Linked DNA regions of Homo sapiens: region 1 is linked to region 2. Evidence: fine-mapped expression QTL. Tissue or cell type: whole blood. Region 2 holds a variant in brackets; the other region holds the start of a gene. All regions are shown on one strand. Distances are between the middles of the regions.

The links. PIP is the estimated chance that this variant, and not a neighbour inherited with it, causes the effect. A credible set is the group of variants that fine-mapping cannot tell apart.
Region 1: it holds the start of ASNS, and the variant in region 2 is the best candidate, but not a certain one, in a credible set for the expression of ASNS in whole blood (TOPMed, PIP 0.66).

Annotation. Positions count from the first base shown.
Region 1 is chr7:97,870,299-97,875,524 of GRCh38, forward strand. ASNS (asparagine synthetase (glutamine-hydrolyzing)) reads right to left here and starts at 2,110. Exons shown (of 13, transcript NM_001673.5): 1 at 2,053-2,110. The region is part of intron 7 of CZ1P-ASNS (CZ1P-ASNS readthrough); the gene reads right to left. RefSeq lists silencers at 1,832-1,941, 2,252-2,341 and an enhancer at 1,991-2,706.
Region 2 is chr7:97,920,558-97,925,783 of GRCh38, forward strand. The region is part of intron 3 of CZ1P-ASNS (CZ1P-ASNS readthrough); the gene reads right to left. It also overlaps a transcript of ASNS not described here. Among named protein-coding and RNA genes, the nearest start is that of MIR5692A1, 40 kb to the right of the region's middle. The variant G/A (reference allele first, on the strand shown) is at 2,918.

The DNA of each region.
Region 1 (5,226 bases), 50 kb before region 2:
ATGTTTTAATTAAAACATCTCTAACTTGAAAAATAACTATTTTGGTGTTTTTTTTAAAAAAACTGCGAATTGCAGCAAATGCCCAAATAGTTTGGGATAAACACCCTAAGGAAAAAATATACATTCAAGTTGCATAAGTCACTTTGAGCTATTCTTTGATGATATTTCATTTATATCTAAAAGAACCAAAGGTTTAGCTGGCTTTTCCGGAAAACCAGAACCAAATAATATATGGTTAGAATGAAAATCATCTCAAGCAATTTGGAAATGAAGTACCACATGTCCTATGCTGTCTCTTCCATGCACTTGACCAAATAGCCCAAATAGCCTATAACAAATTATTTGAGATTTACTGGAAAAATTCCATAAGATTTAAATGAGATGACTACTAATAAGCCATCTGCCTTTGACTCTATATCAATTTAAAACGGGTTAGGAAAGTGCTTTGAAAATCAAGTATGGTCATCAGGGAATCAGTTACCTAAGTCTTCTTAACGCTGCTTAGTGAATCCCTGTATTAATCCTGCTATAATAAATACATTCTAACCACTAAACTGGAGGGGAAAAAGGGAGAACAAAGAGGCATGTAAAGTACACTTATTTTTTCTAGTAGGAAAAAGCCAATTAAAACTATAACCTATTATTTTTATTGGAATCAGTCTTATAGGAGGGCAAAGTTCCTACTGCCGCTACCTGTTCTCAATATTTTTCTTATTTCTTCCTAAACTTCTAGAACAGTGCTGTCCAATAAATATATATGTAAGCCACATATGTAATTTTAAATATACTAGTAGCCCCATTAAAAGAAAAAGGTGAAATTAATTTTAAATAAACTTAACTCAGTATGTCCCAAATAGTAACATTTTAACATATATGTAATCAATATAAAATATTATCGAGCAGATATTTTACACTGTTCTTCCTACTCCAACGACAAAATCCAGTGTATTTAACACAATACATCTCAGTTAGGACTAGCCAGCACTTCAAGTGCTCAACAGTTACAGGTGGCTAGCGCCTACCGAACTGGACATGGCAGTTTCAGTGCATTTAATTTCTATTCCACTTAGTGCTACTTACAACTTCACCCTCTCCCTTTACTTTTATATTAAGATCTCAGTAAGTAACCAACTACAGACAGGTTCAAGCCCTACTTTACCTCTAATTACTCTTACAGCAATGCTATGAATCATGATTTAAAATTTAAAAAAAAAAACTGCTGTTAAATTATTAGTCAAGCGCCCAGGGCAATGGACAGTAAAGAAATAATGTAGGCCACGGGCCGAGATGAAAACTGTCCTTTTTATTTAAAGCTATAACAATCATCTGAAGCCAGCCCTGCAAAATGACAGCCATTGAAAAAGGCATGCTAGTTCTTTTGCCTTTTTCTGTACTTGGTCGCCTGTGTCCCTAAACAGACCTCTTCTCGGCAGGGTTTGCTCAGCAAGTCACTTGATGAGTCTTGCAGTCTACAGAGACAGGTGGGGACTGGTGGGGATGGCGGGGTGAGAGGGGAGGAGGAGGGTGAGCGGTCCAGGTGAGGAGGGGGGCAGTTGAAGGTGAAAGCAGACACCGAGACGGTGATAAGGCCGCAGTCTCTTCCTAGATCAGGACCACGCGACACCTGACTGCGCCCTGGCCACGAGCACGATCCGACCCGTCCGCCGCAGGGACCCGGACCGCGAAAATGTCCACAGGCTTCGACGCCACATAGTAAAAAAAAGTACACATATAACATTTACAGGGGCTCAAACTGCCGCTGCCTCCTCTCCGGAGCGGTCCGGCCTGCCGGCCGCGGTTCCCTCTCGATGCTTCAGGGAACCAGGACAGAAAGGTCCTTCCGCTAGCTGTCAGGTGCGTAACAATCGCTAGGCGTCCGCCCCGCCCTCCCTACCGCAGGAGCCGCAGCATCAGCAGGCGCCCGCGAACCGCGTCTGCCGGGTGCCAGGCTGAAGACCGCATCCTCCACCCCTTCCTTCCGGAGCAGCCCCAGGGCACGCGAGGAGGATGCTGGCGCGGGGCGCAGGGCACGGGGCGCAGGACCCGGCTCACCTGGGCGTAAGCAGGTCAGGGTGATGTGGCGGGCTGAGGCCAGGGATGTGGACAGCTTGACGGGCGGCGAGGCCGCTGGCGCTTATACCGACCTGGCTCCTGTAACGCGTGCGGGAAGTTTCATCATGCCTGCGAGGACCAACCAGCGCGCACAGGGGCGGGGCCGCGGGGTGTCCGGGGCGGAGCAGGACTAAGTGGGGCGGCGGAAGGGCGCAAGGAGGAGCTCTTTTGTTTCCAGCGCCTTGCGTCTCAGTGCGCCTGTTTAAGGATAGCCTCAGAGCTCCGCCCAGGCTACCTGCTGTTCTGACAATTAGGGAGGCTTCTGAACTTGGTTTGTTCTTCGGGAAATCATCACCGTTTTTTTGTTGCACTGCCGTCTGATTTATTATGCAGTGCAGAGAAAAGCTTGTCCTAAGAAACTGATGCGTGAGGCCTAAAATGTCCTTATAAGATCTATTAATAAATCGGGGCCAGGAGCGGTGGCTCACGCCTGTAATCCCAACACTTTGGGAAGCCAAGGCAAGAGGATCACTTGAAACCAGGAGTTCAAGACCAGCCTGGGAAACACAGCGAGATCACATCTCTATAAAAATTGGTGGCACACCATGGTAGTCCCAGCAACTCAGGAGGCTGAGGCAGAAGGATAGTTTGAGCCCAGGCGTTTGAGGCTGAGGTGAGCTCAACTCCAGCCTGGGCGACAAAGGGAGACCCCCATCTCTAAAACAATAAAATCTAAATCTAATTGATACATGAAGCCAAAATACATCAGTGGTCCTTAAACATTTTAAGTACAAAGATTCCTTTTAGAATCTCAAAAAGGATTTTGTCAACTTGCCTCCACAAGATGATTATGTGCTTTTAAGTATCTCTTTGATGAAGAAAAGACATCACGATTTTTAAAAAGTATCATAACACTCTTAAATCGTATTTTACTAATTACATCAGCACCGAAATAAATTGAGAAATAGTAAAATTATATGTGCACGACCTACTAAGATCAGACTACAGTCAATGCTTGGAGAGCATGCAGGTTTGATATCCCCATACAACGCATTCCTGACTAAATCAAAAACGTCAACAATTTAAAATCCCTAAGAACAGAAGATGGAGTAGTCGCTTAGTAGTTACAGGCAAGAGCAAAGATGAGAGATGACTTGTTCTAAGGTTCATTGTTGCTGGAAAGTTTTCAGTATCAAACAGACTTTGCTGTATCCTAATTGACGTACTTTAAACCTGAGAGCAATGTGGGAAAGTAGGTCTTCTATCTACATTTTACAAATGAAAAAATAAGACTCAGAAAAGTTGAGGGATTTATCCAAACACAGCTTCACAACAGTAGAGAACTGAGTCATAATCTGTGTAAACCCAGAGCCCATTTCCCGTAGCATCTTGCCTATGTAGTGAAAGACAGGTTCCCCTGCTTGGTGTGTTACCTAGTGTGCTTCCTTGTGCTGCGTATCTCCTGCTTGTCCGTCCAGAGCTCTACACTTCTCCACCTCACTTTCTATCCTGGCTCCCTTGCCCTCCTCTTTCAGGGAGAGTGTGCAAAGGCAGACATTTCAAGGAGATGCAAAAGGTGAAATTAAAATTGCTAATGAAGTTTTGGCACCATTGTCATTGATAACATCTTATCAGGAGACAGGGTTTTGAGATCAACCGGTCTGACCAAAGTTTATTAGGTGGGAATTTTCTCTTCCTAATAAGCCTGGGAGTGCTATGGGAGACTGGAGTTTATTTCACCTCTGCAGTCTCGACCATAAGAGACAGGTACGCCCCGGGGGGCCAGTTTAGAGACCTACCCCTAGGTGCGCATTCTCTTTCTCAGGGACGTTCCATGCTGAGAAAAGGAATTCAGCGATATTTCTCCCATTTGCTTTTGAAAGAAGAGAAATATGGTTCTGTTCTGCCTGGCTCACCGGCGGTCAGAGTTTAAGGTTATCTCTCTTATTCCCTGAACAATTGCTGTTATCCTGTTCTTTTTTCAGGGTGCCCACATTTCATATTGCTCAAACACACATGCTGTATAATTTGTGTACTTAACGCAATTATTACAGGTCCTGAGACGATATACATCCTTCTCGGCTGACAGGATTAAGAGATTAAAGTAATGACAGGCATAGGAAATCACAAGGGTATTGATTAGGGAAGTGATAAGTTTAGTCCATGAAATCTTTACAATTTATGTTTAGAGATTGCAGTGAAGGCAGGCATAAGAAATTACAAAAGTATTAATTTGGGGAACTAATAAATGTCCATAAAATCTTCATAATCCACGTTCTTCTGTCATGGCTTCAGCTGGTCCCTCCGTTTGGGGTCCCTGACTTCCCGCAACACAGCACAGTGCCTGGCACAAAAGAGTTGCTCAATAAATACATCAGGATGAATAGATAAATACACGGATAGGCACTTTGAACTACAGATGAGCTTAAATACTTTGTGTTTTTCTTAGTCAAACATGTGCAATTAAGCATGTGATAAATGTTATGATGACCACACGTGTGTCTTGCCTGATGTTCTTTGCAATCACTAAATGAAGTCAATTGTGCCTGTTTTGACAGTTCTATTTTCAACCTAATGATCTGTTTATTTTAACTTCTGGCTGTTGGCTTTGTTTGGGTTTGTTAGCCTGACGAAGTGGTAGATATTGGTATTTGCTCTTTTGTTTAAATGTCACGAACTTTAAAAATGCCTTTGCTTTTGGGAAGAAACCCTAGTTAGGACACCCTAGCGGTCAGGATGATTTGGGTTCTGGTGCAGTAACGACAATCCCCAAATCTCAGTGGCTCCATGCAGTGAGGTATTTGTTTGTTTTTGAGACAGGGTCTCACTCTGTCACCCAGACTAGAGTGCAGTGGTGCAATCTCAGCTCACTGCAACCTCTGCCTCCCAGACTCAAGTGATTCTCCTGCCTCCTGAGTAGCTGGGATTACAGGCCCATGCCACCACTGTCTGGCTAATTTTTGTACTTAGTAGAGACAGGATTTCACCATGTTAGCCAGGCTGGTCTTGAACTCCTGACCTCAAATGATCCACCCGCCTTGGCCTCCCAAAGTTCTGGGATGACAGGCATGAGCCACCATGCCTGGCCACAGTGAGGCTTATTCTTGGTCACGTTGCATGTCTGGGCTGTGTTAGGGCATTGTGTGGTGGTCTGTTCATTGTGTTCACTCAGGG
Region 2 (5,226 bases):
TGGGTAACCTGCCCCCTTCCAGCTGGGGCCAAATAGAAGGGGGAAAGGCTGCCCCCAGAATACAGGGCTCTCAGAGGCCCTGGGGATCTGTGCTGGCAGTCAGGAGGACTGTCACCTCAGTGCAGTTGCCTGCAAGGAGGGCTGTGTAGGAAGCTGCATGTTGCTCAGAGAACAAAAAAAGGAAATTAAATGCACCATCTGGTTATTAGCAAGAGCTTTTGAGACAGACACTTAAATATGCATGCCTAGACATTATAAAACTTGGGGGAAATGTTAATTTCAATAACGCCACTTCTTGTGCTTGCAGAAACCATTCTTTTTTCTCCCTTCCTAGTAATTTGGGGGCTCCATCCCTCAGAGTGGCAGCGCCAAGACAGCCGGCCTCACTGGGTTTTGTAAGCTGTGTAAGGTGAGATCCCAAGCCCTTGCCTGGAGACCCATCTTAGGAAAATGTTAGAACAGGGCAACAAGTTGCCATTTCCTCCCTCCTTTCTCTTCCCCATACAAAAATCAGAAAGCACACTAGCCCAGTGCCCAGCCACAGTGGTGAGGAAACCCCACTCAAAATCCTGGGTTGTGCCCCTGATGCCAAAGATCTGCAAAATTGGGACTCACCTGCTGCAACCCTAGCCCAGACTTGTGTACATTTCAGGGGTGGCTGGACTCATGGCTGCCTGGGACGTCAGGGTGGTACAAAGTACTCTTAATCTAAGACTGTCGGGGTACAAAGATAAGCATTTTTTTCCCTTTTCTTGAGAGCCAGATGGTAAATAGTTCAGCTTTGCAGGCCATAGGTCTCTGTCCCAACTATTCAACTCTCTATTGTAGCAGGAAAGCAGCCACAGACAATATGCACTGAAATGGGTGTGGCTGTATTCCAATAAAACTTTATTTGTGTGAACAGGCAGGGGGCTGGTTGTGGCGTGTGGGCTACAGCCTGCCTCCTCTGCTACAGCATGATCTCCAAGGACCGATCCATCTTGTAGACCAGCAGCTGGCACACAGGAGCTGCTCAGATACTTGAAGGAGGAATGGAGAAGGCAAGCAGCCCCCAGTGTGCAGACGTGAGGGTCTCCCAGCAGCACCATCCTTTGCCATCTCATGCCGAGGGACAAAGCCAGAGCAGGGCTCTCCACCAAGGCTGGGCTCTCCTCCAAGGAAATGTGATAACAAGACAGAAAGCACTGTGGAAGGATAGGGGCTTTGGAGTCCCACAAACCACAGTTTGCAAGACCAGGAGCATCCTGCACTTCCTTGCACACATCCTGGGTGGGTGCCGGAGCATCTAGACTTAGAGTGAATCTTTTCCCCCTCCTCCCCCAACTGGTCTCCATTACACTTCCAGCAACAATGTAGTGTACATACACAATGGAATACTATTCAGCCTTCAAAAAGAAGGAAATCCTGCCATTTGAGACAACATGGATGAGCCTGGAGGATATTATGTTAAGTGAAATAAGCCAGGCACAAAACGACAAATACCACATGATCTCACTTATATGTGAAATCTAAAAAAGTTGAACTCGGCCAGGCATGGTGGCTCATGCCTGTAATCCCAGCACTTTGGGAGGCTGAGGCCAGCAGATTGCTTGAGTCCAGGAGTTCGAGACCAGCCTGCATAACATAGCAAGACCCCATTTCTACAAAAAAATACAAAAATTAGTGGAGCGTGGTGGTGCATGCCTGTACTCCCAGATACTCAGGAGGCCGAGGTGGGAGGATTGATTGAGCTTGGGAAGTCAAGGCTGCAGTGAGCAAAGATCACACCCCTGCACTACAGCCTGGGCAATAGAATGAGATTGTCTCAAAAAAAAAAGGATGAAAAAGAAAAGAAAAAAGTTGAATTCACAGAAGCAGAGTAGAATGATGGTTGCCAGGGTGGGGAAGTGGGCAGATGCCAAAGGACACAGAATGTCATTTTTAGAGAGGAAGAATAAGTTCAGGATATCCATGGGACAACATGGTACCTATAGTTAATAACAACATAACATACACTTGGAAATCACTAAGAGAGCAGATTTTTTAAGTGTTCTCACCATAAAAAAATAAGTCTGGGAGGTGATGTTATTTAGCTTGATTTAGCCATTTTGTAACGTATACATACTTCAATCACATCATGTTGTACCCTCTTGTACATAATTTTTGTCAATTAAATAAATTCAACAACTCCAAAAAACAAGACATTCTTTTTACAAAATAATTATTAAAAATAAAATTCAGAATTCTATTTTATTTATTTATTTATTTTTGAAACAGAGTCTCGCTCTGTCACCCAGGTGGCTGAAGTGCAGTGGTGTGATCTCGGCTGACTGCAACCTCTGTCTCCCAGGTTCAAATGATTCTCCTGCCTCAGCCTCCCAAGCAGCTGGGATTACAGGTGTGTGCCATCACACCTGGCTAATTTCTGTATTTTTAGTAGAGACAGTTCCGCCATGTTGGCTAGGCTGGTCTCGAACTCCTGACCTTAGGTGATCCGCCAGCCTCGACCTGCCAAAGTGCTGGGATTACAGGTGTGAGCCACTGCGCCTGGACAGAATATAAAAGATTGTTTAATTCAACTAAAACATTAAAACATAGATTATTTCTATAAGTGGTAATTGTTCTAACACGTTTTGGTCAAAATAGTCTCCTTACTCATCCACAATTAAGTGGTTAACTGACATTTGATTGGATTTTGATAAAGTTTTCAAATCATGATTGACTTTTCCAATGTGTTTGAAAATATTTCATAAAAATTAATATTTAAAAATGGTCAGGCATGGTGGCTCATGCCTGTAATCCCAGCACTTTGGGAAGCCAAGGTGGGCCGATCACTTGAGGTCAGGAGTTTGAAAGCAGCCTGGCCAAACCTCATCTCCACTAAAAATACAAAAGTTAGTCAGGCATGGTGGCACGCACCTGCATTCCCAGCTACTTG[G/A]GAGGCTGAGGGAGGAGAATCCTTTGAACATGGGAGGTGGGTTCCCCAGGCTTAGAGCAAAACCCCCATCTTGTCCGTCTCCACTCTCATCCCAGGCAATCACGGTCATTTCCACAGCCTCAACCACTGTCTACCTGGGATGCCTCCCAAGCCCAAGTCTCCAGCCCAAACCTGCCTTCCTAGCCCCAGACCCATCTGTCCTGGCACACGTTGCCCCCTGGGTCCCAAGCAACCTCAGCCAATGAGTCCAACGTCAACTTCCTGTCCTTGCCTGACACTGTCAGCCCTGAGATCAGACTTGACCATTCACCTCCAGTACCTGATAGGTCCGTCAGTCCTTTGGAACATATCCCACGAATATTCCCTAAACCAGGCACCGGACTCCACACATCAACACCGTCATGTGAGTCACCAGCATCCCTGGCAGGGACCCCTGTCCCAGCCTCCAACTCATCTCCTTCCTGTCCCTTGAGTTCTGTGTCACATTCCAGAGGCCACAAGAAGAAAAATGACAACCTTAATGAAATTAAAAGAATTGAGAAGACATTTCCCTATGGTCCAAAGTCTTTCCAACTGAGAAACACATATCAAGATCCGGCCTGCCAACCCTGCGGTTAAATGTTCCTGAAATAATTAAAGCCCAGGGCAACACAGCCCGCACTCCACAAGTACTCCCAGCACAGTAAGACTTGCTTCTCTGGAGGGGCTTGAAATGTCCAGTGTGTACCCTGCCCCTCTCTGTCGTAGCTAACAGGAATGTGCTTCATGTCTTCTTCCTGCTCAAAGGACTGTCCACCAACATGCGCAGGTAGCACTTTCGGCCAGGGGGGGATGCGAGAACTTCCCACCATTTCCCACTTATGCACTGCATTCCTCAGGAGCCTGCCTCACAAATTACAAGAGCGCCACGGCAGACACACCACGTTCCAGTGGGTGGCCATGTCTTCATGTCAGCTTGAAAGATCGTCACCAGGGAAATATCTATATCTCGGCAGAGAAAGCTTCAGCCTGTGTAGTCCAGCTGTGCTCAAATGGAAATCCAGAAACCCAGATGTTGGTCCAAACACCCTGTCTCGGACAGCCAGCTCTGCAGGTCCCCAGCGTGGGAGTGAACTGGGTGGGCCACCTACCCTGCCTGCCCACATCCCTGCTTCCTGGAATCCTGGACCCTGAGAACCAGGGGGATGTGGTGGGGAACAGGCAAGTCTTGTGCAGAAAGCCAAGATGCCACCCAAATCCACTCTGCAGTCTAGGTGGGTGATATTCTGGTCTGCACCACACCAGTGCATGAGGGGATGGAGGATGGAGTCTAGACAAGCCAAATGTAAAAAGATATTGCCCAAGTATTTTGTGCTTTGTCTGTGTTACAATGCTATGCCCAGCCCAGCGTGGTGGCTCACACCTGTGATCTCAGCACCTTGGGAGGCCGAGGCAGGCGGATCACCTTAGGTCAGGAGTTTGAGACCAGCCTGGACAACATGGTGAAACCCCATCTCTACTAAAAATACAAAAATTAGCCAGGTGTGGTGGTGGGCACCTGTAATCCCAGCTACTCGGGAGGCTGAGGCAGGAGAATCACTTGAGCCCAGGAGGTGGAGGTTGCAGTGAGCAGAGATCATGCCACTGCACTCCAGCCTGGGCAACAGAGTAAGACTCCATCTTTAAAAAACATAAAAATAAATAAATGCTATGCCCAGCATTTTCCATGTACTGTCTTATTATCTCAGTAAATCCCATATAACCTTCCTATGAAAGTGTATCTCATTTATCTCCATTTTATAGATGAGAAAACTGAGGTCCCTGGAGTAGTATTAATTTTCCAAGACCGCATTGCTCATAAAGGGTACAGCAGGGACCCAAGCTCGACACTCTCACCCTCAAACATTTCCACAAATGTAGACCAATGGCTCTCAACTGGGGTGGTTTTGCTCACGTACCACTCCCTTGCTCCATGACATTTGAAACCATCTGGAGACATCTGGGGTAGCCATAGCTGGGAGGGTAGAGTGGCACCTAGAGGATGGAGACCAGAGATGCTGCTAACCATCCTACAATACACGGGACGGCCCCACCACCACCACCATGAATGGTCTGACCCCAAGTGTTGTGACTGTGCCAAAGCTGAGAAACCCAGGTTTCTCCTCAGCAAGAAGGGAAAATACCTGCAACGTGGATGCACCTCTACAGGAGCCCCAGGCTGACAATAACCTTCCTGATCTGGTTTCAACCCTGGATGCTTTTACCTGGTGCGTTAATCAGGGATTTCAGGGACTCCAGTGAGTTATCACCCTTGAATGCTCGGTTCTGCC